Linked DNA regions of Homo sapiens. The protein of the gene in region 1 purifies or fractionates together with the protein of each later gene. This does not show direct contact. Each region holds a gene or a part of one and is shown on either strand. Other genes may lie near its edges.

The links.
Region 2: the proteins of ENTREP1 (region 1) and STXBP4 purify together in Homo sapiens (affinity purification with mass spectrometry; 3 studies listed by BioGRID and IntAct, with this or other methods). This does not show direct contact.
Region 3: the proteins of ENTREP1 (region 1) and ANO6 purify together in Homo sapiens (affinity purification with mass spectrometry; 3 studies listed by BioGRID and IntAct, with this or other methods). This does not show direct contact.
Region 4: the proteins of ENTREP1 (region 1) and ANKRD13A purify together in Homo sapiens (affinity purification with mass spectrometry; 3 studies listed by BioGRID and IntAct, with this or other methods). This does not show direct contact.
Region 5: the proteins of ENTREP1 (region 1) and DNAJC1 purify together in Homo sapiens (affinity purification with mass spectrometry; 3 studies listed by BioGRID and IntAct, with this or other methods). This does not show direct contact.
Region 6: the proteins of ENTREP1 (region 1) and RHBDD1 purify together in Homo sapiens (affinity purification with mass spectrometry; 3 studies listed by BioGRID and IntAct, with this or other methods). This does not show direct contact.
Region 7: the proteins of ENTREP1 (region 1) and CUEDC1 purify together in Homo sapiens (affinity purification with mass spectrometry; 3 studies listed by BioGRID and IntAct, with this or other methods). This does not show direct contact.

What each region holds. Positions count from the first base shown.
Region 1 is NC_000009.12:69,387,715-69,391,214, reverse strand, and holds part of ENTREP1 (endosomal transmembrane epsin interactor 1), read right to left. Parts: intron 3,058-3,500; coding exon 2,765-3,057; intron 1-2,764. UniProt on the Homo sapiens protein: Functions as an activator of the E3 ubiquitin protein ligase ITCH in the ubiquitination of the CXCL12-activated CXCR4 receptor. Thereby, triggers CXCR4 endocytosis and desensitization, negatively regulating the CXCL12/CXCR4 signaling pathway.
Region 2 is NC_000017.11:55,076,765-55,080,264, forward strand, and holds part of STXBP4 (syntaxin-binding protein 4), read left to right. Parts: intron 1-1,313; coding exon 1,314-1,430; intron 1,431-1,921; coding exon 1,922-1,971; intron 1,972-3,500. UniProt on the Homo sapiens protein: Plays a role in the translocation of transport vesicles from the cytoplasm to the plasma membrane. Inhibits the translocation of SLC2A4 from intracellular vesicles to the plasma membrane by STX4A binding and preventing the interaction between STX4A and VAMP2.
Region 3 is NC_000012.12:45,345,095-45,348,594, reverse strand, and holds part of ANO6 (anoctamin-6), read right to left. Parts: intron 1,574-3,500; coding exon 1,508-1,573; intron 568-1,507; coding exon 280-567; intron 78-279; coding exon 1-77. UniProt on the Homo sapiens protein: Small-conductance calcium-activated nonselective cation (SCAN) channel which acts as a regulator of phospholipid scrambling in platelets and osteoblasts.
Region 4 is NC_000012.12:110,030,430-110,033,929, forward strand, and holds part of ANKRD13A (ankyrin repeat domain-containing protein 13A), read left to right. Parts: intron 1-215; coding exon 216-329; intron 330-2,017; exon of another isoform or gene 2,018-2,281; intron 2,282-3,367; coding exon 3,368-3,500. UniProt on the Homo sapiens protein: Ubiquitin-binding protein that specifically recognizes and binds 'Lys-63'-linked ubiquitin. Does not bind 'Lys-48'-linked ubiquitin.
Region 5 is NC_000010.11:21,916,731-21,920,230, forward strand, and holds part of DNAJC1 (dnaJ homolog subfamily C member 1 precursor), read right to left. Parts: intron 3,200-3,500; coding exon 3,102-3,199; intron 2,143-3,101; coding exon 2,049-2,142; intron 1-2,048. UniProt on the Homo sapiens protein: May modulate protein synthesis.
Region 6 is NC_000002.12:226,863,554-226,867,053, forward strand, and holds part of RHBDD1 (rhomboid-related protein 4), read left to right. Parts: intron 1-1,050; 5' UTR 1,051-1,140; coding exon 1,141-1,573; intron 1,574-3,500. UniProt on the Homo sapiens protein: Intramembrane-cleaving serine protease that cleaves single transmembrane or multi-pass membrane proteins in the hydrophobic plane of the membrane, luminal loops and juxtamembrane regions.
Region 7 is NC_000017.11:57,868,413-57,871,912, forward strand, and holds part of CUEDC1 (CUE domain-containing protein 1), read right to left. Parts: intron 2,958-3,500; coding exon 2,874-2,957; intron 782-2,873; coding exon 710-781; intron 1-709.

The DNA.
Region 1 (3,500 bases):
AGAATTCCCATAGCAATGGGGACAGTTAGCCTGGACTCAGGCTCAGGAATCTGTATTTTTAACAAGAATCCAAGTAAGAACCACTGGTCTGGGATTGGGACCAGGTGATGGGTTTATAAAATGTCAACCAAGTATAGGCGCAGTGGCTCACACTTGTAATCCCAGCACTTTGGGAGGCTGAGTCAGGAGGATTACTTCAACCCAGGAGTTTGAGACCAGCCTGAGTAACATAGTGAGACTCCATCTCTACAAAAAAAAAAAAAAAAAATTAATTAGCTGGGCATGGTGGTTCATGCCTGTAGTCCCAGCTACTTGGGAGGCTGAGGCAGAAGGATTACTTGAGCCCAGGAGTTCTAGACCAGCCTGGACAACATCGCAAGACCTCATCTCTACTAAAAATAAGAAAACTTGGCTGGGCGTGGTGGTGTGTGCCTGTAGTCCCAGCTACCTGAGAGGCTGAGGCAGGAGGATCACCTGAGCCCAGGATTTCAAGGCTGCAGTGAGCTATATCTACACCACCGCACTTTAGCCTGGGTGACAGACGGAGACCTTGTTTCAAAAAAGAAACAGTCAACCCAAACCATCCAATGATGCTTCAAATGGATCTGATAATCCTTTAATAAACAATATAAAAATTAGGCCAATTTATTTGTAAAAAGTCTTTAAGAATGATTCTTTTTGCTAGATCTATTTTGCAATGTGTCACAAACATAATTTTGAATATATAATAATATCACTTACTCTGTAAAAATGGCAAAAATATGAAAAATTCCTCATCCAACTGGGATTGAAGAGGAGAGAACTGTCCGGTCAATTTTTTAAAAATTGCACTGCCATGTTTCTTTGACCCATAATACTGTCAGCAGCTTCGGAAAACCTTGGGGCTTTATTGTTACCTAACATCACAGCACAATCATTTGGATGACTTTTTGTTTCATTTGTACCATTCTGAGCCTTTAAGGTCATTAAAAGATTATTCCTCCAAAGAAGGAAAATTAAATTTTATTAACAGTCTACTAATTACATTTGTCTTTAAGGTCTGTCCTTGTCTCCCGATTAAGAATAAAAGTTCAACATTCAAAGAAGTTGACTGTGCTACATAGTAAGTTAGGACAAGTGGTTTTGATATCAGTGAAAATCAAAATGGATCTAAAAACTCCAAGATGCGAAGCCAGCTAGAGTCAGAAATAACTGGTCTCCTTCTGCTGTCCTTACCTCCTTCTGGTGTTCTTACCTCCTTCTACCAGGGAAAAGGTATAGAATTGTGAAAGCTCACCTCTAGGTTCCAGTCCTGGAAGGCCCAGGAGATGGCCCAAAATCTATCACAACAATCTCAGCACCTGAAGTTTTAACCTGCCTGGGGCACAAAGATCTAGCAAACATTTGTGATGATAGCATCTAGTGAACTGTATAAGTGCTTGTTCTTCTTCCCCAGAGCTATTTCTCAGGGAGCAAGACTTTGCAGAAGGTCCAGGCCCACTACCTGGTGAATGCTCCAGCTCTTAGCTCATCAGAGCTTGGCAGCCTTCCAGAAGTGACTCCTGATTATTGGGCTATTGGGGCCGGACAGAGGGAAGGTGACAGACAATGACATCTGGAGTAGCTAAGGGACACCAGGATGTAAAATGTTTTCCCTACATAGGTTAGTAACTGGAGCCTCACCCGGAACCGTCAACTGATCACTCTTTCAGAGTGCAAACCCAAGAGGGTCTGTGGTTCATGTACCTCTTCATGCAAGTAATCAGATCATTCCTCCCCGCTGAATCCCCTGAGGGACTGGGAGAGAGTTTGGCTTCTGGCTTCTGTAAGAAGAGGCCAGCAGGTAGAAAGGGGGAACGGAAGGGACAGTGAGAGGGTATTTACTCAATTTGAATTGAAAATTTACCTACATCCTGAAGTTGGTAATTACCCTGAGAAATTAGCCCACTTCAGTTGAGGAAGTATTTGTTAGCCATTTAATGCCCAAAGACACAGAGCCACAAAACATCCATACGCCATTGTGGGGTGCTGTCTACAACATCCACCCCACTACCTGCAGCAATGAAGCCAACACCTAAAAGGGAATGGCTCTTAAAAGAGGTGGAGAGAAGGCTCTTACCAGAAGGAAACTCCATTCATTCAAAAATAAAGGTAGAGAGACTACCTAGTCCAACCATTTACTTTAAAGAGGAGAAACCTGAGACCCAACTGGATTATGTTCATGCCCAATTCTATCTTTTCCCCAAGTGGCTTCAGTTTCGGGGATTGCCTTGTACTTTTTAATCTACAAGAAGAAAAGGTGCTTATTCCCTTAGGACCTGTTGGCTTATTTATCTTGCCAAACATTTCATGGGAATGTGAACAGCCTCTTAGAATCTTGTTGATATTAAAATTCACCTATGTCATCATTTCCAAAGGGCTGAGAAAACATGCCCTATCAAAGGAAACCTTCAATTCAGGAAATCAAATGTTGAATGCACTCCACACTGTCCACATCCTCCGCTTTTATTCCTAGGATGCACTCTTTAATTTTCCCAGACATGCTTCCACATCCCAGAAAAACTGGGTTCTCTTCCCTTGAGCCAAGAATGATGTGGGAAAGTTACCACACTTGAAAGAAAGCTCCCCGGCTTCCTCTGTCTCCCTCCCCAGAACTCTCAACCCAATTTCCCTGAAGACTGTGACCATGAACTTACTCTGCCTTGGACAAGAAAGCGGAGAAGCCACTTTAGCTGCTATGAAAATGAGTCATCTGATTCATGCCTGAGATTAATAATAAAACTACCTGTTCTAGAAAACTGGCACTTGTGATGGCTTCCTCCATGTGCTCCTCATCAGATTTCAAAACAGATTTAATGTTTTCTACAAGTTCATGGATGTCTGGGGTCATGGTACAAGAGGACTGCTCCAGGAACCTCGCCACCAGCAGCTTGGTGTCCATGTAGGATTTGTAATCTATCAAAGACCGCGGTCTGCATCGCGAAGCTCTAGATCTCAAGCCTCTCCTCAGAGTCACTGCAGCCAGATCCAGTCTCCTTTCAGTCTGTGTTGCAGCTTCACAGCTGAGCACTGGGGCAGCTGTGGGCAGAAACAAACAACATGTACCCATTGGCCAACCCCTTTTGAACATATGCCTGTACCTGAAAGCACAGACCACAAAACTCAACATGGAAAGCATCTGACAAATGCTGATAGCCATGCACATCCTGCTTTTCATCTTGCAGAAGGAGGGAAAACAACACAAGGTTATTCCCTGAAGTCCAGTTCCAATAGGATATGGCCCGAAACACGTCATTGTGTCATGTACGACACCACCCCCAAGGTAAAGCCAGATGGTGGAGAGGAGAATCCAGAATGCAAACCATAATGAGGTTAAGTTTCATGGGGTATGACAAATAGATGGGGATGGATGGGCCAAGCAGGAAAAATGTGGCTGACCAATGAAAGGATGTTCCAAGGAGCGAGGATGAAGTAGTCAATTAAGAGAGGAAGGGGCTGAAGAGAGACAAGACTTGTCAGAT
Region 2 (3,500 bases), on another chromosome or scaffold:
AATTCAGATTGGATGTGTGCTATAGCTTCTTCTGGCTGTTTTCTCTTTACCTTTTCTCCCCATTTGTATTTCAATTTTTGTCTTTCTGTTCCATTATGAGAAGTTTCTTTACCTCTGTTGTCAAGTTCACCCATTCTCTTTATAATTGTATCTAACTGGATGTCAAATCTATAAATAAAGTTTCTAATTTAGTTATGTTACATTTTTATTTTTGAGATGTATTTTTTATGTTATCTGGATCTATTTCAATAGTTTCTTGTGTATTATACTTTCAATTCCCTCTTATTTTTAAAAACATATTAAACATAATTGCCTTATATTTTGTATCTGCTCACTTAAATATCTGCTGTCTTTATAGATCTGATACTGTACTTTATTTCCTTCAGTTAGCTTTCATTCATAGAGCTTATTTTCTCATATGTTTAGTGATTTTTGTTTGTGTCTGTGAGATCATGTTCTATCAATGCATTATAAGTGGGAATTCTTTGAGCTCTGAGTTTTAGAAATATCTCTCCAGAGTTTTGAGTTTGCTTCTGCTAGCCTGGGACCAATTTAAAGTAAAATTTCAGCATATGGCTTTTTAGGCCACACAGATAATGTAAATTCTGGCCCCAAACCTGTGTGAATGGGGACTTTTGGTTAGGAATTATTCAGGAGAAACTTTTTTACTCAAGTCACCTGAGCCAACATCAAAACACTGTTTACCTCTGTGAAGTTTACTTCTTCCCAGTTCACCCATTGAGTTTCTTCTGTTTTCCATTTGTGACTGTTGAAACCCCAAACTGTAGGCCACCAGGGATCAGCATATACCCTCCGAACAAATAATGCTTCAGTGCTCTCTTACCCCAGTGGGCTCACTTGGCATCGCTGTTGCATGTCTCCATGGAATTCCTTTACTTCCTTGCTAGCTTTGTCTTACATCGTGTGTGTGTGTGTGTGTGTGTGTGTGTGTGTGTGTGTGTGTGTATCCAGCATTTTTAGTTATGTTAAATTAGTAGAGGTTTCTGTCAGCATCTGGTAAGACACATTGCAAAAACAAAACAAAACAAAACCATAAACTAATTTAAATGTATTTTACTATAAGAATCAATAAACTCATATACAACTTATCTCATAAAACTTGCAGTATCTCTGTGCAAATTAACTTTTAAATATGCAGTTAGTTACATGCCCCCCAAAATCAAAACATATGTACAGTAAGAGAAAAAGATAATTTGGTAATATTGAATATTAGTTCATAAAAACTGAAAATAGGGACCAGTAATGTAAAACTGAAGAAATGTGTAAATGCTCCTTTTGATATCTCTGTGCAGGAAAGTGTTCAGGATTTAAAAAAGAGAATCATGGTACTCGACTGCCAATTACGAAAATCAGAAATGGCTCGAAAAACTTTTGAGGCATCCACTGAAAAGCTTCTTCATTTTGTAGAGGTAAGTTTTTCTGTTCTATTACATTCATCTTTAAAAAATATATAGGCAACTGGCATATAGATAAATGTTACTGTATTTGGTACCTAGTGAAACATTCTCTAGTCTCAAAGCAGCAATGCTGGCTTATGGTCAGATTTAGAACTGCATACATGATGAAAAGACTGGCTAACATTTTATAGATTGTTTAGAGAAATAATTGAGACAAGGTGATGGGATTCCAAGTATATACTATTTTAATGAATACTTTACCAAAAATCCTGATAATGCATAAACATTATTTGATAACTACTTACCTTATAAAGAAATGTTTTCATAGCTGTTATATTTCTGAGTAAAACTGCATGTTAGTTCAATTGTTTGCACCCCCGCTACATAATAGAAGCATCAGTTTAATCCGTGGACAGAGGAGGTTATAAATATTAATGAAGAAAAGATATTTTTTAAAAACTGTCAAACTGATATATCTCCTTCACCATCTTGTTTGTTGCTAGGCTATTCAAGAAGTATTTTCTGATAATTCTACTCCTTTATCAAATTTAAGGTAAGAAAATTTAAGTGCTTTTTGCAGAATATGGGTAGTGATTAAATTCTTCATCTGGTCATTGTGACTCAAATACTAAAAATCTCTTAAATAGTCCTAAGGTGCTACATAACTCCCATTGGATGCCATCATATGGAAATAGATGCAAGGACATATTGTTTTGTGTCCCATCTCTGTTAAAGAAATTCCTGGAGGTATTTAGTCAATCATTGTAACCTTGTAATCTAAAATTATGGTAGAAACCACCTATCCTGTCTTTATCAAAAATTCTATAAAGATGAGATTAACTTAAAATTCTGTAATTGTCTTGCGTATGAATCAAAGTTACTGGTCACAGGTTCACTACTAAAAGTGTCTCAACCCAGCAGGTTAGTTGTTCTGGCAAACAGAATTTTGGAAAACATATTCATGCAATCATTTTCTTTCGTTTTCATCTTTCAGTAGCTATAAATAAAAGAAATATATTTGGAGAATATACCTCGATTGTCTCATTATTCATAATATGTTTTGGATTTAAAGTTTCTTACTAGAAGCTGGAAACATACTAATCAAATTTATTTATTTCAAACCACAAGTTTATGGTCATTTTGATACATGATGAAAGACATTTACAAAAGAAAGATTCTTGTTTATGCATTTCCAAAGTAATTTTTTTCTGCTCTCATAATAGCTGCCACTAGTCCTAGATACATCTTCTACTTCTAGCAATATACGCTTGCAGAAACAGGAAGACTCAATGAGGTTGGGTGTGATGGTGCATACCTGTAATCCCAGTATTTTGGGAGGCTGAGGCAGGGGGATCACTTGAGCCCAGGAGTTTGAGACAAGGAACATAGTGGCACACAGTGGGACCCTATCTCTACAAAAAAAAAAAAAAAAAGAAATAGCCAGATGGGATGGTGCATTCCTATATTCCCAGCTACTTGGGAGGTTGAGGCAGGAGGATTGCTGGAGCCCAGGAGCTCTAGGAGATTGAGGCTGCAATGAGCTGTGATCATACCACTGCCCTCCAGCCTGGATAACATAGTGATGCCCTGTCTCAAAAAGTAAATAAATACTCTACCCTTTACTGTGAAAACAGCAGCTTAATAAGTGAAGATATTTTTGGTGTCCACATAGCATTTTTTAATTTAGAAGAATATTTATAATTCACTTCTAAACTCAAGTAATGTTTTACTTCTTATGATGAAGGAACCTGACATAACTTCTTACTCTCCTTGCTGCTTATGATACAAGAAAACTCTGTGAATTTCATGATTATTACTCTCAGTAAGGATCTTAAAATAATCAGTAATCACATTTATTTCTTTATGGGCTAAGTGTGTCACCCACCCTCAGCTTTCCAAGGTCTTAGTTTTACCTTGACTAATAATTCAAAAGTTTTGTTTTAAAAATTAAGGTTAAAATGACTATTTAAAAGCCAGAGCCTGCCCTTGCCTTAAACTGCTTCATGGAAAAAAAGACAACTTTAAATAGCTACATCACGCAACATTTCATGGTGTCTTAGTAAATTAAACACTAGTAAAAAC
Region 3 (3,500 bases), on another chromosome or scaffold:
TTTACAAGTCTGTTGATCCCAAACTTGCTAACATTGTTTATCACTTGATACTTGACCCGAGAGAGGATGAAGTAAACCTAAAAAGATTCCAAAATAGAGTATGCGGTTTATATAGTGTAATTAACCAATCCAATCATTGTTTACTACTGTAACACAAATCTGCTGGCATATTTCTTTTCTTTTTGTGCAGTTTTTAAAAATAAAACCAAACCAACCAAACCACAAAACAGCAGGTTCCAAATTACCCCAAGACAGCAACTAAATTTGGTTTAGACTTACAATGCGGCTTCTGGTGGCTGGATTGAAGAAAGCATCTCTATCAACTATGTAAAAATCATTCATCCGGTTCTTCTCAAATGGGGCAGTGAAAAACTCTTGCTCTGGCTTGATGATGCTTTCGTCTACACTGAGGACTTTGGTAAACCAGTTGAGTGTACCAAAGGCTGAGGACCGGTTTTTCAGATCATTGGGTTTCAGAGGCAATTTGATGTGCATTATCTCAGCATACGTACATAACACCTCCCATGGTGCGTGTACTTTTACAAATACAAGCTTGTCATCCAATACCTATATTGGAAAAATAAAAACGCAGAACAAGAAACCAACTCTTTTCACAATTTTAAAACACATAGATTTTTCTTATGTTGTTGGTAGCTTTAAAAAAACAATACAGAGACCACCACTAAAAGTGAAGATAACAATAAAAACAGATTTGCAAACCATCATAAATTTTTGTCTTAAAGACGATTTCTTGGTTTGAATCATTAAGGAAGTAATTCAAATCATCATAGTTCATAAAACTATGAAAATAATTTATAAAATGAAGAAAACCAAACTTATTTGTCTATCACTCTACCCTAATTATTGACTTAAAGTAAAAACACTAGAATATTCATTGTAGTGCTAGCATAATGAAAAATTTTTAATTTTCTAAACCTCGAATGAACTTATTGTCTATCTGTTCAATATCATATTATGTGGCTGTTAAAAATGTCAAAGAATTATATTTATTGACATAAATCCATTTGCTATATATTAAAGGGAAAAAGCAAATTATAAAACTGTGAAGTGGTAATTTTCTCCTTTTTGAAAGATAAAAAATGTGTACATATATATTTTTGAGTAAAACAGCTCAGAAGGACTGCAAAATTATTTATGGATAATTAAGATACAGATTATTTTCCTTATTCTTATGTTTTCTAATTTTTTACCATAAACTATTTTTTGTATAACAAAAAAGCTTTTAGAAGTTTCTTAAAGAAAGAAAATAATCATTCATACATGCATTCATTGTAAAATTCGTTGGCTATTAAAAAAGATCTGCTAGTTTTGATCAGAAAAAAAGAATACATCCTACACAATGCAGATTTTGATTGACTCCTCTCCCAGTCTATGACTAAGATGTGGCCAGGGCTGCATGTTTCCAATGTCACCCAAGTATTCCAAGTGGCACGAAGCTGCCCGAGAACAGTGGTCAGCCGAGGGCTGAAAAGGGACCAGTACTTACTGATCTTGTTGCTTCTAACTGCAGGCCATGACAGATAAGGTTAGATTCGTATGCTTGTCTTTTCCTCTGTCAAAAGAAGTTGGAATATATGTTAGACCTTTAGTTTACCAAAGGCAGAAAAAGGCATTTTTTAAAACAATATTAATAACAAAATCAAACTAGCGTGGACCTGAAAAAGAAATGCATCAGCATTTGGTCAAGCAAATGGAATAGAAGAAATGAAGCAGCTCTTGCTGCTGGTGACATGTAAGTGTTGGATCCCCAAGAGAATGCCGTGGAGGGTACTTCGATGCCCTGGCACCCTGGAAGGCCCTTGGCTGTCCTGGTGTGGTTTCAGTCATCTGAGGTAAATAACAGTATCCTGCTTTGACACAATCCCACGTACTTTTTGGCTCATAAAAGCATACAAATTGAGCTTTCTGAGTCCTATTCACTGATACGAGTTTTCAGAGTTGAAGATTCCAGATTTTAAAAATTTGGTTTCCATACCAGACATTCAAATGGTTCAATTACTGGATGTGTATGCGTCATCCCTGCATATCTTGACCAAATTCAATAAAACAACACAGGCAATTTTGGCAAAATTCAGATAATTTTTTTCTCTCTGCAAGACTGAGATGTTTGTGAAGCTATGTCTAAATCCATAAAAATAGTGAACTAAATTGATATCTATATTACATGGCCATTTCAAAAGATACAGAATATACTACACTTATGGATATTAAATTCTAGATGCCTAGGCTTTTGCCAAGCTGTGCCCAAAGTTGTAAGGGAAGCATGCAAAGATGGAGACTTGTTTGACCTTTTAAAAAGAATGCTTTTCATGACAAAACAGTTTATACTGCTTTGTGAAATGAAGAAAATGAGTAGACACAGAGGTTAAGAACACAAGCTCTGCTATGGTTTAAATATGTCCCCCAAAAATCATGTTAGAAACTTAATCCCCAATGCAACAGTGTTGAGAGGTGGGGCCTACTGAAGGGTAATCAGGCCACAAGGGCAGACTTAACAAATTAATGACATTATCACAGGAGGGAGTTTATTAGCATGGAATGAGCTCCTTATAAAAGTTTGGCCCCCTTTTGTTTCTAACCCCCCCGCCCCATTTTTGTTTCTCCCTACCACCTCTCTCTCCCCCACCACCGTGGGGGTGACACTGCAACAAAGTCCTCACCAGATGCCAGCCCCCTTGATCTCAGACTTCCCAGCCTACAGAACTGTGAGCCAATCAATTTCTGTTCTTTATAAATTAGTCTGTGGAATTCTGTTACAGCAGCACAAAATGGACCAGAATGAGCTCTGTAACCACACTTCCTGGGTTCAAAATCTGATTTATTATTCATCAACTCTATGACCCATGACAAGAAAATTAAACTCTCCATGCCTCATTTTTCTTCATCTGTAGAACTAAGAAAACCCACTTGTTTCCTTTTTAGGGTCTTGTGAAGATATGATTTAAACTACATAAAGCACATGAAGTAGAATTTTCATTTCCAATAGTGACAAAAGGTAACTTGGGGCAAGCCTTACACTGAAGACAGCTGAAAACGCTGGGTGGAATATTTAGCACAGCAGTTAACAAGACAGAGAGGAACTGCTAGGTCCAGGTCGAGATCATCTAGTGGGTCTGGCAGTCAGACACTTTACCCAGGGAACAATACTCATGATCTGCCCACTCTAAAGGGACAGAGTGGGGATGAGTTGCTGTGCTATGCACAGGGCCTAGAACATAAAAAAAATCCCATAAACTAGAAGTAGGTGAAGCTGCAGGAAAAAGACCAAAGGTCAAAAAGTAAAAGAATATACCTGGTATTTGGCTACATTTGAGTCCAAGTGGAATCCCTGATGTATTGTGTTGAAGTATCAGAAAAAGGATATTGCTTTGTTTTTATATCTTTAATAAATGGTTGTACAGTACTTAAAACATGCCAGACACTGTTCTAAGAGCTGTTCAGATATAGTACATTTAACTATTGGCTGCAATTTGAACATA
Region 4 (3,500 bases), on another chromosome or scaffold:
GTGCTGGGATTACAGGTGTAAGCCACCGCGCCTGACCGAAAATACACAACTCTCAATCTCAGTTTTCCCGTCTGTGTATTGGGAAGGGTTGTTATGAGGCTTAAATAAAATTATACTTATCAAAGTACTTGGCATAGTAAGCACTTAGTAAATGATAACTATTATTGTTATTCTCAGTAAAGTTTACTTATAAAAGTTTTTATTTTGTTTGTTAGAAATTCCCTTGTTTCATGTCTTAAATGCACGGATTACATTTGGAAATGTTAATGGCTGTAGCACTGCCGAAGAATCTGTATCTCAAAATGTGGAAGGGACCCAGGCTGATTCAGGTAAAAAAATAAATAAATACAAAGTTTAGTTTTGTTATTTAAAAAAAAATTTATGGCCGGACGTGGTGGCTTATGCCTGTAATCCCAGCACTTTGGGAGGCCGAGGTGGGTGGATCACCTGAGGTCGGGAGTTTGAGACCAGCCTGACCAACATGGAGAAACCCTGTCTCTACTAATAATACAAAAATTAGCCGGGTGTGGTGGCGCATGCCTGTAATCCCAGCTACTCGAGAGGCTGAGGCAGGAGAATCGCTTGAACTGGGGGAGAGGCGGGGGGATGGAGGTTGCTGTGAGCCGAGATTGTACCATTGCACTCCAGCCTGGGCAACAAGAGCAAAACTACATCTCAAAAAAAAAAAATTATAATTCAGTCATCATATTCATAATTCACTCTGAAGCTGGAATATCTGAGGGAGTAGATGTCTGTGTTGGATGAAAGAAAATTTCAGATTTAGTTTAGATTAAGCAAAAAAAAACTTGTAGAATATATATGATCCTAGTTATATTAAAAAGAAAGGATGTTCTTAAAAATCAGCTTTATTGAGGTGTAATGTACATACAATAAAATGCTCTCATTTTAAGTGTGATGGTTCAGTGCATTTTTTTTTTTTTTCTCAGAGTCTCACTCTGTCACCTAGGCTGGCATGCAGTGGCACAATCTCTGCTCACTGCAGCCTCTGCCTCCCAGGCTCAAGCGATTTTCTTGCCTAGTCTCCCAAGTAGCTGGGAATACAGGTGCGTGCCACCATGCCTGGCTGATTTTTGTATTTTTATTAGAGACTGGGTTTCACCATGTTGGCTAGGCTGGTCTGGAACTCCTGACCTCAAGTGATCCACCCAGCTCGGCCTCCCAAAGTGCTAGTGTGAGCCACCATACCCAGCCACATTTTGACAAATGTATGCATCTGTGTAACCACCACCATAGTCAAGGTAGACAGCATTTCCATATGCCCCCAAATTTCCTTACACTCCTTTGCCATCAATACAATTCATGATTTTAGATGCAATTGTAAATGGACTTATTTTCTTAATTTCATTTCCAGTTACTAGTATATAGAAATATAATTGAGTTTTGTATTTTGACCTTGAATCGTTTTTAAAAATTTTTTATCTTTTTTTTTTCTTACACAATTGCATGGCCAGGATTGACCTTGTTTATCTTGTAACATGGCTGAATTTACTTGTCTTACACTTTTTTGTAGATTTCTTAGAATTTCTTACATATATGGTCATGTTGTCTATTAATAAAGAAAATTTTACTTTTTCCTTTCTAATCTTTAAGCTTTTCATTTCTTTTTCTTGACTTACTGGACTGGCTAGGACATCTAGTACAATGTTGAGTAAGAGTGGTAGGAATGGCTGTCCTTGTCTTGTTCCTGGTTCTAGGGGAGGAAGGATTGTTGTGCCATTAGGTATGATGTTAGCTGTGTAGGTTTTTTATAAATGTCCCTTATTAGTTGGAGGACATTATTCTCTTATATTTCTAGTTTGCTGAGAGTTATTACCATTTTTAAGTATTGATTTTTGTGAGATGTGTTTTCTGCAACTATCATGATGGTCCTATGTTTCTCCCCTGTAGTCTACCAGTAGGAGGAATTAAAAGATAGCATTTTAATGTATATAAATTAAGACTTCAAATAAAAACAATTGAACTCGACAATAATATACACCTTTACATTCCCATGTAGCAACAAAGTTGGGTGAGATGTGTTCATGAGGTTGTGCAGCTAAGGAACACTCGTGCACTCTTGGCTGGAAGAGGAGATTGGTATAGTTCCTTGAATAAAACATTCGGCATTACTGTATAAACTGAAGATGTGGATGACCTAGCAATTCCTAGATGTGTACCCTAAAGAAAGTTATGCACATGAGCATCTGGAGACCCCAGTACTGGGCAGCAGCATCCATTCATAACAGCAGAAACCTGGAAACGACCCAAATGTCCCGAGATGGTAGAATGCGCTATTGTGCTCTATTAATACAACAGAATAACATATAGTATTGAAAATAAAAATTTATAGCTATGTGCGTCAAAACTGTTGAATTTCAAAAGCATAATGTTGAATGAAGAAAATCCAATTTGAAGAATAAATTCCGCATGATTCCATTTATGTCGAGTTCACAAACAGGCTAATACAAACTATTAGGATGATATACATGTGGCAAGCTCCAGAGAAGAGCTAGGCAGTGTAAACAACTATTCTGAATTATGTATTTACCTCTGGAGAGGAAGAAGGGAATATTGTTAACAAGGGATGTGCCCGCAGTATGGTATTGATAGTGTTTTTTTCTTTTTCTTTTTTTTTTTTTTTTTTGAGACAGTCTTACTCTGTCACCCAGGCTGGAGTGCAGTGGTGCGATCTTGGCTCACTGCAAGCTCCGCCTCCCGGGTTCATGCCATTCTCCTGCCTCAGCCTCCCGAGTAGCTGGGACTACAGGTGCCCGCCACCACGCCCGGCTAATTTTTTTTTTTTTTTGTATTTTTAGTAGAGACGGGGTTTCACCATGTTAGCCAAGATGGTCTCGATCTCCTGACCTTGTGATCTGCCTGCCTCAGCCTCCCAAAGTGCTGGGACTACAGGCGTGAGCCACCGCGCCCGGCAGTTATTGATAGTGTTCTGTGTCTTAGGCTAGGTGAAGGGCACACAGGCATTTGTTTAATTATTATCATTTTTAAGTGTTCAGATATTTTATATATACTTTTATATATTTACCATATATCTTCCTGCAAAAGGAAGAAACACATTGGTGTGACTGTGCGTATATGTTTAGGGGGAGAAATCTGCGCTTTTCATTTTATAGTCTTGTGTATTTTTTTATGACTGTGTTCGTTGTTTCCACTAAAATCAAGGAAAAAGAAAAAAGCTGTATTCTGTCACTTTTTTCTGTCATGCTTCCTCAGAATCTCTCATATAATAGTAAGCCTTGATTGTTATAATTTTGAGCCTTTCTTTTTTTTCTAATGTACAACATTTTTGCAAAAAGTTGGAGTGGAAATGTAATGAACTCAGACACTGGACGGTTGCCTTTTGTTTCAGCTTCCCACATCACAAACTTTGAGGTTGATCAATCTGTGTTTGAAATTCCCGAATCTTACTATGTTCAAGACAATGGCAGAAATGTGCATTTGCAAGATGAAGATTACGAGATAATGCAGTTTGCCATCCAGCA
Region 5 (3,500 bases), on another chromosome or scaffold:
ACTACAAAACAAAAAGCGACAAAAATCTAATCCTGAGAGCAACTGAACAGTATTGTTTTGCTAATGTATTTCATAAGCAATCAATCTAAAGTACTTTCTAAAGTATTATAATATATATTTGAAAGAGTCTACTGCATTACATTATTTTGTTAGTGACCACTAGAAACACTAATCTAAGGTCCCCACAGCAGAATAAAAATATCAAATATTTCCTTTAAAAAGGAAAATCATCTTAATTTTCTTCTTGAAATCCATTTATCAAGAAGAAATAATTAGAATAAAATTTAAAAATTAGATTTAAAAGGTCTTGGAACCCTAATGCCTAGCATCTCAAAACCGAAAGGCCAGCAGATACCATCAAGTAAGTAAAAACTTTAAAATTCAAAGTGATCAGTTAAAAAAAGCAGAGTTTCTAAAGAAACTAAAAAGTTTCTGTAAAATTCCTCATTTTTGTATATTTTCTACAAATTTATGATGAGGCAAAACAATCAATCTATTACATGAATTAACAGCTATCACAGGCAAGTATTTTAAAGTAAATTATAAATCTAAGCCATAACAATATGTTGGTTCTAGTCTGGCAAATTACCCTGCATGCTAAACAAGAAATATGTTAATTTTACCAAATAAATTTTATTTCAAATTAGATTAAAATTACAAAGAAGTGTTTAATATTGATATCTTATGTAATATTCTATTTATACTGCCTCATGAATATACTTTTTAACTCATCTATATTCTGGTTTGCCTATTGCACGGATTCTAAAGTTGGCAAAAAATAATCAGACTTCAAAAAATAAGAAAATCTGCCCTAAAAATATTTTCTGCCTCATTTTCTCATAAACATACCAGTGTGATAAAGACTTTCCCTCCCTCATTAAGTCTTACAGACAGCATACAAACATTGCAGAGTATTTTTTCAAGCAAACAATATAACACACTAAACAACTTAAAAACAAACCTTTTAAATTACCAAAATACTGTAATTTTTCTCTATTAACTGTAAACAAAATATAAGATTCTATAAGCAATAACTATTAAGATGAACTATTTTGATGGAAGAACTGGTAATTTCTCAAAGGATAAAAAGAAGCACACTAGTATTTTGGTTCAATATCCCCTTTAAATATAAAATTTTCATTATGAGAAAAATAAAGGAAAATGCAGAAGTTGTAGTCATTAGCTTCCTTAAAAAATCAGGAAAAATAGCTCTAATATATAACTACAAAGTGGGTAGAACTGAATTAGAATATTATCTGGTCCTCTAGATTATAAACACTTATTTTCTAAAATAAAACATTTCTCTCCAAAAAATTACAATCTCAACCTCAAAATCTGTACACCAAAAAGTGTTTTATTTACTTTCAAATATTTATGTGTTGGGGATTTTCAAACCTGATGCAAAAATCAAAATTAACAAAGCAATAATTTAATAAAATATGCTTTGGTATACTAAATGTAAAAAAATAAAAGAAACTGACATCTAAATATGATACATATCCACATTTTATTATTTAATCAAGACTAAATAGAAACAGAAACTCATTACCTGTATAAGACAAAATGTCCTCACTCCTCTTAAATTTGCAAATAAAATGGAAAGCAATATATATTTTGGTACAATTATACAGATGTTCATGTAAAGTTTTTTTTTTTTTTTTTTAACACTATGTACTTAAATGCTATTAAAATAATGGGTGGCAAGCTACTTGAATACTGTTCCTTTTTACTGGTTATGCTTTTAATGATAACAGTGGATTAAATTTTTATTGCTTTTATCTCTGTACTAAAGATAGTATGTTTTTTTCTTTTTCTAGCATCTTGGGACTCTAAGGTGATCTAAAACCATTATAAAAGATAATTACAGAAACATATCTAAATTATCTTAGAATTATCTAAATTAGGTTTAACTTATAAAAATCCTACTCAATCAACATTATAAAGCATCCACTGCATATCAGCATTCAGAGAGCCGACATGGGCATAAATTATTTCATGAGTGATTAAAAATAAAAGATCTAATGTTATATAAAAGAGGTACATTTTACCTGGATGAGGTGAGGTAATGCTTTTAGTGTAAGGCAAAACCAAATCCCCAGTTTGCATGGAAGCAAATCATGCCACTGTGGTTTCATCAGCAATCTAAAGGGAGGGAGAAAAAAGAACACCATACAACATATGAGGAATATACAGAGAAAGTTGGGAGGCAAAATAATTCTATAAAGATCATGAATTCTTTTGTGAATGGCTACTTCAACAAAAAAAATGAAGAAAGTATGCACTGAAATATTTATAACTGACTTACTCCATCATGAAATACAGTAGTCACAACAAATGCAATATATATAGCATGTAAGAGAATCTAGGCTAAGATTTTGGGGAAGGAGGCTCCTAATCAAGTTACAAAGATAAACAAAAGCCTTCTTTCTAACCTGGGCTTTTCATCACTTTTGTACAACGAATTCTTAAGCCTTATGATTACTTCAGCTATAAAAAACTAACCATCATCAGAGTGTTCCCAAGTGCTGACAACCAGATATGAAGACTGTAGCATAAACAAACCAATACATAAAAATTAATGTCATTTGCAGTTCACTGAAGCATTACTCACTGATGTCATCAGAATAGATGACAGGCAGAATAGTCTCTGATCTCCATCCCACATTGATCCCAGTTCATGCCCTGCTGTGTGAACTATTTAAACCCTTTATTCCTTTCTATGAATCAATAGAAGAAATGGTGGTATCTTTTTGAGTGTACTGCATATCACTGCCTCTCTACATACTGTCACTCCTGAGCTAAGTGATAGGTCCGTCTAATAGTACTTTGTTTCTAAAGTTCAGTATAAAAATTTCAAACTAGAAGAATTTGAGGGATTATTTAAATATATAGTCACACTTTATATGGGGGAAAAAACCTGAAGACATTTTGCTTAAGATTAGAACTTGTCTCATAAACAATGGCACATTATTAGTCTTTTATAAGACTACCACAGATATAAATGAGAGCACATGTAAATAGACATACATATGAAGTTGAATCATATTAAAGATGTATTTTAAAACAGCTTCAAATTATAAAGTATTTTTATATGCTCTCACCTTTCATTTTTTTCTGAAGCACCGAGTTTTGATACATCCACACTCTTGCTGCCAGTCTTTTTTTTCTTTTCTCTCTTTTTTCTACTTAGTAGTTCATCCTTAATGTGGAAAGAATTATGGTTACAGGTTATCATTAACATGTACACTTCAAATGTTATCTAGGCTCTTCTGTGAAGGGTAAACATTATAGAGGAACATTTATGCAAATGTATGTAGGGTCCAACATGATTAAGTAAAATCATCAATCTTTCACAATAACTGTTGCCATGGTATCCAGGCCTTAAACACACATGAAGTTCAGGACTGTCAGTCATGTGCATCTCCATAGCAATCAAAGTTTTCTAAGAAGAGAAAGCATTCAACTCACTTTTTCTCATTCATCCAACTTTAATAATGTCA
Region 6 (3,500 bases), on another chromosome or scaffold:
TTGTATACCTGTGGTCAGCTAGACAGCTTCACCTCTGGAGTAGTAGCTGACCAGTGGCAAGGACCTTCAGGGTGACTGGAGTGTGTGCCTCTCTTTCATTACCCAGCAGGCTGGCCTAAAGTTTTCACATGTTGTTTGAGAGGGTTTCAAGAGAGAGAAGCCTATAAATCATCTTGAGGTATAGGCTGGGAGCTTATGTAGTATCCCTTCCTCCACATTCTGTTAGCCAAAGCATGTCACAGTGCCAGCCCAGGTCCAGCGGGGTGGAGAAGCGGGCTAGTAAGCCATGGAACTTCTCATTGTCAACCCCAAATCACCCTTGAAGACCATAGTCAGATCACCACCTCAGGCTGTGTTGTGTGCCTGTGCTCTGGGTTCCCTCTCTCACTGCATTTAGAACATTATGTGGCCACTGTTGGTTTATTTCTTGGTGGAAAGTGAGCCTCTTAAAAACAAGGACTGTGTTTCAACCCAGGATTTGGCTTGTAGAGTAGGTAACGAAAAGCTGAAGTTGTTATGAAAGTAGAGTTCAGACCACTGATATCTGGCAGTGTGGAAATTGGGATTAAAGATAATGTATGCTCGTGTCTTAAAACTTGCTTGTTGATGTTTAAAAACTTTGGAGCAAACTCATTCTAACATATCAAAATCAAATATTTCTTTGAAAAAAATGGAGGGGATAAAGAATCCTGGCCAGGATTCTGAGTAGAAATCATTTAATACTTGCACACTATCTTTGTAGGTTTTTCATGAGGTTACATGTTTGTTTGGGAAGTGAAGTTAATTTCGTGGTGTGTTTGTCAGAGAAAAACATACCTGTCCATTAACTGATTCATTGGGATTTGGGATAACATTTCTATTCTAGAATGTAAAATGAAGGAAGGGTGTCAGTCAGCATCCTCGATATTACTCTTGAAGATGTCGAACATAAATATTTCTGTTAGAATGAGAAGTAGCATTTGCCTCATGGGAGTTTGTCTTGAAGCGAGTATGTCTTATATATGTACTAATTCTTAATTGATGGTTTTTCACATGCATTTTGTGTTTTAGGTTCAGCCGTCTGTATATCTCCCCAGATACCTGAAACTGACCACCTGAGTACGTTTTCCCATTGCTGAGCTGTTTCCCTGATATCTGGCCATGCAACGGAGATCAAGAGGGATAAATACTGGACTTATTCTACTCCTTTCTCAAATCTTCCATGTTGGGATCAACAATATTCCACCTGTCACCCTAGCAACTTTGGCCCTCAACATCTGGTTCTTCTTGAACCCTCAGAAGCCACTGTATAGCTCCTGCCTTAGTGTGGAGAAGTGTTACCAGCAAAAAGACTGGCAGCGTTTACTGCTCTCTCCCCTTCACCATGCTGATGATTGGCATTTGTATTTCAATATGGCATCCATGCTCTGGAAAGGAATAAATCTAGAAAGAAGACTGGGAAGTAGATGGTTTGCCTATGTTATCACCGCATTTTCTGTACTTACTGGAGTGGTATACCTGCTCTTGCAATTTGCTGTTGCCGAATTTATGGATGAACCTGACTTCAAAAGGAGCTGTGCTGTAGGTTTCTCAGGTAAGGGAGACAAAATTTTGAGGTTGCATGCATAAAGGAAGCAAGGGAGGTGTGGCTGCTGTCATTTTATGAAGTGTGGGTCCCTATCAAATTCTGAGTGGTTAAGGGCTGCTGAGGCTTTGCGTCTTGAAGAGGAGGCTGGAGCATGCAGGGACTAGTTTTTGCCATTCTACATTATGCTGCATTATTCACTCTTAGTCTGCACTAGGACCTGCTGGAAGGTGGTTTTGTAGAAGACATAGTATTGGAAATATGCACCAGCTCCTTATGGTAGGGTCACAGAAAGACCCACAGATGTATTTGTAATAGGGAGTTCTCAAAAAAGATGACTGTGCTTGTGAAGTAGGCTCAGTGTGCTGTCTCTGATTACCAACTTGTCTGCACCTGGTGAGACAGAGCACACTCATCTGCAACAAGTTACATGAGGCAGATTTAGTATTTACAGTTAGGCAGCAAGGGAAAACAGGAGCCTAGGATTCATCGTGAGCCCATCTTCAAGGCTCAAAAAGCTGCCTAGGGCTGTTGGAGTCTTCACTGTGTGTGTTCCTTGCATGCAAATAAGGAACCCCAAAGAGGCAGCCAGGTACAAACCTAGGAATCACATGAATCACTGGGCAAAGCTTTGAAAGACATCCTATTCGGGAGAGGATTAGGCTGTTTCAGCCAGCCCCCTTTTATCTCAGGGTGTTGGATTTCCAGCACATTTCCATAGTTATTCTTGAGAACTACAAGCGAGAAAGGAGGGGGAGAACTACATAGGTCCAAGGCCACCTGGAGAACTGTCCTGCGATGCCTCTGGATGACTTCGTTAATAAATGGACCACACCCTGCTATGGCATGCTGGCCATGTTTTAGGAGCCATGATAATCACTCTGCATAACCTAACCAATTTAATTTATGCAGCAGATCCACATGGAGATGGGATTATCTTTATTTTATTTTATTATTTATTTATTTTTTTTGAGACGGAGTCTCGCTCTGGCACCAGGCCTGAAGGGCAGTGGCGTGATCTCGGCTCACTGCAACCTCCGCCTCCCAGGTTCAAGCGATTCTCCTGCCACAGCCTCCCGAGTAGCTGGGACTACAAGGCACGCACCACCATGCCCAGCTAATTTTTGTATTTTTAGTACAGATGGGGTTTCACCATGCTGGCCAGGATGGTCTCTATCTCTTGACCTTGTGATTCACCCACCTTGGCCTCCCAAAGTGCTGGGATTACAGGCGTGAGCCACTGTGCCCGGCCTTGATTTTATTTTACTTTTTTTATTTGTAGTTTTTTTTCTGACCACCTGCTGACTGTTGAGGGATTGTCTTGATTTTATAGATGAGGAAGCCAAGACCCAGAGAAGTGAGGTTACTAGCACAAGGTTACCCAGCTCGGAAGCGATGGAGCTGGGACTTGAGCCCAGTCTACAGATTAGCTGTGTGATGCATTGTCTCTCACTTTCTTCCTCACTAGTTCCTTTTTACAGATATTTCATGGGACCAAAATTGCCAGCAGGATTTAAATTAGGCGTTCTAAATATTAGAATGTGAAGGGGAGGAGAGAGGTAGTCCTGAAACAAGGAAATCTAATCCTTCCTTCTGCTTTTCCTGACATCCTTCCCCTTTCCTTCCAAGATGTATCCTTATGCATCTAATTGTGGGAGAAGAAAGAATATATGCCCTGTCTTCAACATGTTTTTCCATAGAGGTTAGAAAAATACATATTACTGGTATTTTTATTGAGTTAAAATTTATATAGCATAACTATTTTGTAGTGCACAGTTCACTGGCGTTTAATACTAATAATAGTATTTTATTCACATGGTAGGTATTATGTATTTAGTAGCATACTGAACACCAATATGAACTTCTATATTTAGAAACATCAAAGGAGTGACTGCCTTTAACGTTGTCTTTTTACCAAATGCAAGGTTGTAAGGAA
Region 7 (3,500 bases), on another chromosome or scaffold:
GAGGACGCCACCCCAGGAGCAAGAGGCTACATCCTGGGTCAGCCTGCAGGGGCAGCACAGGACACCCTGAGCCAGGCCCAGGGACCGCAGGCGGCTCAAGATCCAAGTATTCCCTCCCCAGCTGCAACACACTGCAACGCATCTTGGCTCGCTTTCCCGCCGCCACCGCCTTCCCGCCCCTCCCCTAGCCACCTCCAAAGTTGGTTCTGGGATTTCCATGACTAATCCGAGATTTTCCTTGAAATGGAGCCTGAAAGGATCGCAGCCTCATTCACACATGGCTGTGGGTCTGTGTGGCGGGGAGGTGAGGGGGAGGGAAGGGGGCATTCAAGGCTGGTAGGACTTTGTGGAAAGAGGTCCCCCACCCCCACAGAGGCTTAGCAAGGGCCTCTCTGTGCAGTCAGCTCCGGCCAAGCCTCCTCGAGCCACAGAGAACGTGAACATGAGGATTGCGGTGAGGGCATGTGTGGCACGTTATTTTTCTGCAGACATCTGGCTCAAGAGGATTTAAAACTTAATTTGTATCTAGACTCAGCTGTAGAGGGAAGTGAGGCAGGAAGGCTGAGGGAGCCAGCCTGCGATGAAAATGTCACTGGTTCACCAAGAGTCAGCTGCATTACATGTGCTGAGGGGCTCCCTCACTCCTGGGAGGCCACAGGGCCTGTCTCAGAAAAGCTGGGGAGGGAAGCGGGGCCTGAGTGGGACTCACACTTTCCCATGTGTTTCAGCTTGTCCCTGAATAAGGCATCTTCAGACACAGCGGGGTTGGCGTCGCCAGTTCCTGGAAGGAGACACCTGCTGAAGGCCGGCCACCGTGGCCAGCCATGGCCGCTGTCCCAGCCCTACCCACCCATCTGAGGACAAATGCAAAGAAAGAGCAGGCTTCTTCCCTGGCCAGAAGGGAGTTTAAAGCAAGGAGGATGTGGAGTTCCAGGAGCTCCTCTTTCCCCTTGTGGACTTTGTTTCCTCCTCTGTAAAAATGGGGAGGGTTCAGCGGTCTACTGTGTGTGCAGACAGCCAGCTCGTGTGTGCTCCCAACTGTCCACGCCTCTGACCAACTCCATGTTTCATGACATCACCTTGGTAGCTTGGGAGTATTTCCACCATGGAGGTCACCAAGCACTACATATCAGGCTCCCGCTGCACCCAGAGTTGGCTGTGAAACATTCACCAGCACACCAGGGGCCTCCTGCACCCCGACATTCATGTGACAGTCAAATGAGGTGCTGGCTCAGAGCCGGCATTCACCTGTAGCAAGTCCCTTGTCCTTCCTGCCAGGTAAGCCCATCCATTGCTCCCTCCCAGCCACAGGGTTTCTGGCTATTAGACAATGAGTAGGAATAGAATGGGACTAGTCCTGGAGTCAGAACCCCACCGGCCACCCAGAGTCTCCCGGGCTCGCTCAGCATCCACTTGGGTTTTTTGCTGGTTTCTGAAGCCCCTGCTCTCTGTCCTGCAACTTGGTTAATCCCCAGTCACCTTGCCTGCTAAGTCCCCTTTGAGTCATTCTGATCCATCTCAGCAGCCCCGGTATCTCTAGTTAATTCAGGATCAAGGACAAGAGGCTCCTGCTTAAAACTCCCAGCTGCACATCTGCTGAGCCCTAAGCTCCCAGCCTGCTGCTTATGAGTCAGTTCCACAGGATTTTCTCCCTTCAAGCTGGGATCAGCTCAGCTCCCCATCCCTCTGCTCCTCCACCCCCAACTCCACTGCATGATGCAAGGTCTATTCCAGGCAAGAGCCCTTCTCCGAGGTGGGCAGCTTGTGTACATGTGGGGCAGGGGGCACTGACTGATGAGGGGCCACTGTTCGCACACAGGCACCAGGTCATCGTTCCCAGCTGTGGCTCAACCCAGTAGTCTGCGCATCCCAGGAGCACTGCAGCCCCCTCACCCCTATCCAACCCTCTTTCAGCCATCAGAGCTTCTGAGCAGAAGGGCCTGGCCCTCTTTACAGGCAATTCTTACTTCCCACCACCTTGTACACAAAGCTAGAAATTCCTCTTCCTCCAACACCTAGGGCAAGGCCCAACAGATGGCAGATATTCTCCAGCTATGTCATGAATGAATGAGTAAACTCCCCAGATTAATCCTGCCCTCCTTTTTTCCCATGCATTTGCTAAAATCAGTAAGTCCTCAGCTTTGCTAGTTTGTTCTACCTGTTTTCTGGGCATTTCTCCTTACAAGACCATAAGCTTCCCCAGGACACAGACCAAGACTTATGAGTCTCTGAGCCCCACCACGGGGCATTTTGGGGTCCTTTTCTTCTTTTTTTTTTTTTTGGAGACAGGGTCTCACTCTGTCACTCAAGCTGGAGTGCAGTGGCATAATCACAGCTCACTGCAGCCTCAACCTCCTGGGCTCAAGTGATCCTCCCACCTCAGCCTCCTGAGTAGCTGGGACTAGAAGCACAGGCCAATATGCCCAGCTAATTTTTAGTACTTTTTTGGTAGAGATAGGGGGGTCTCATTTTGTTGCCCAGGCTGGTCTTGAACTCTTGGGCTGAAGCAATCCACTCTCCTCGGCCTCTCAAAGTGTTGGGATTATAGGCGTGAGCCACCGCACCTGGCCATGTGTCATTGACTAGCCTACACTCGAGGCATAGGTTGAGAGTTCAGCCAGCCTATGTTACTTGAACACAACTGTGGGCTCTGAAGCCCAGCAGTGGCTGGATTGGAAAGACCCCAGAGCTGCTAAATGGACTGGATATGGAGATGGGGGCAGAAGCAGCCCCGCCAGCCTGCTGAGGAGGCCCAGGCCCCCTCCCACAATCTGTTTTTTCACCCTCCTCTCAAACTCCAAATATGCAAAGCAAAGTTGGGTGTGAGCTCCCCACTATGCCTCTAGGTTTTCTTCCCCAGAAGGCAAAGTTACCTGGGACAGGAGAGGAAAAGCCAAAGTCGTTTCCGACAGCCACGCTGCTGGATTTAGATTTCTGGGATTCGTATTTCAATCGATCTGGAAAAGGACCACATTCACAGGTCAGGGAGGTTAGCTCCTGGGCTCCCAGGGGCAGGCTGGGCTGGGACACGGTAGTTTGCTAGAGGCTAAGTCCCCAGAATCACACATGAGCACACACGGGCACCCAAAATATGAGTGCACACATCTACCAGCTCTCAAAGAACCAGCAGTAAAAGAAACTACCGCCTGACAGCCATCTCAAATGTCAGAATTAAAAGGACTCAGAGAGACTGTAGAGTCCAAACCCCCTCATTTAAAAAGAAAGGCACGGCCAGGGATGGTGGCTCATGCCTGTAATTCCAGCACACTGGAAGGCTAAGGCAGGCAGATCACCTGAGGTCAGGAGTTCGAGACCAGCCTGGCCAACATGGTGAAACCCCGTCTCTACTAAAAATACAAAAATCAGCCAGGTGCGGTGGCGTGCGCCTATAATCCCAGCTACTTGAAAAACTGAGGCAGGAGAAACACTTGAACCTGGGAGGCGGAGGTTGCAGTGAGCCGAGATTGAGCCACTGCACTTCAGCCTGGGTGACAAGAGCG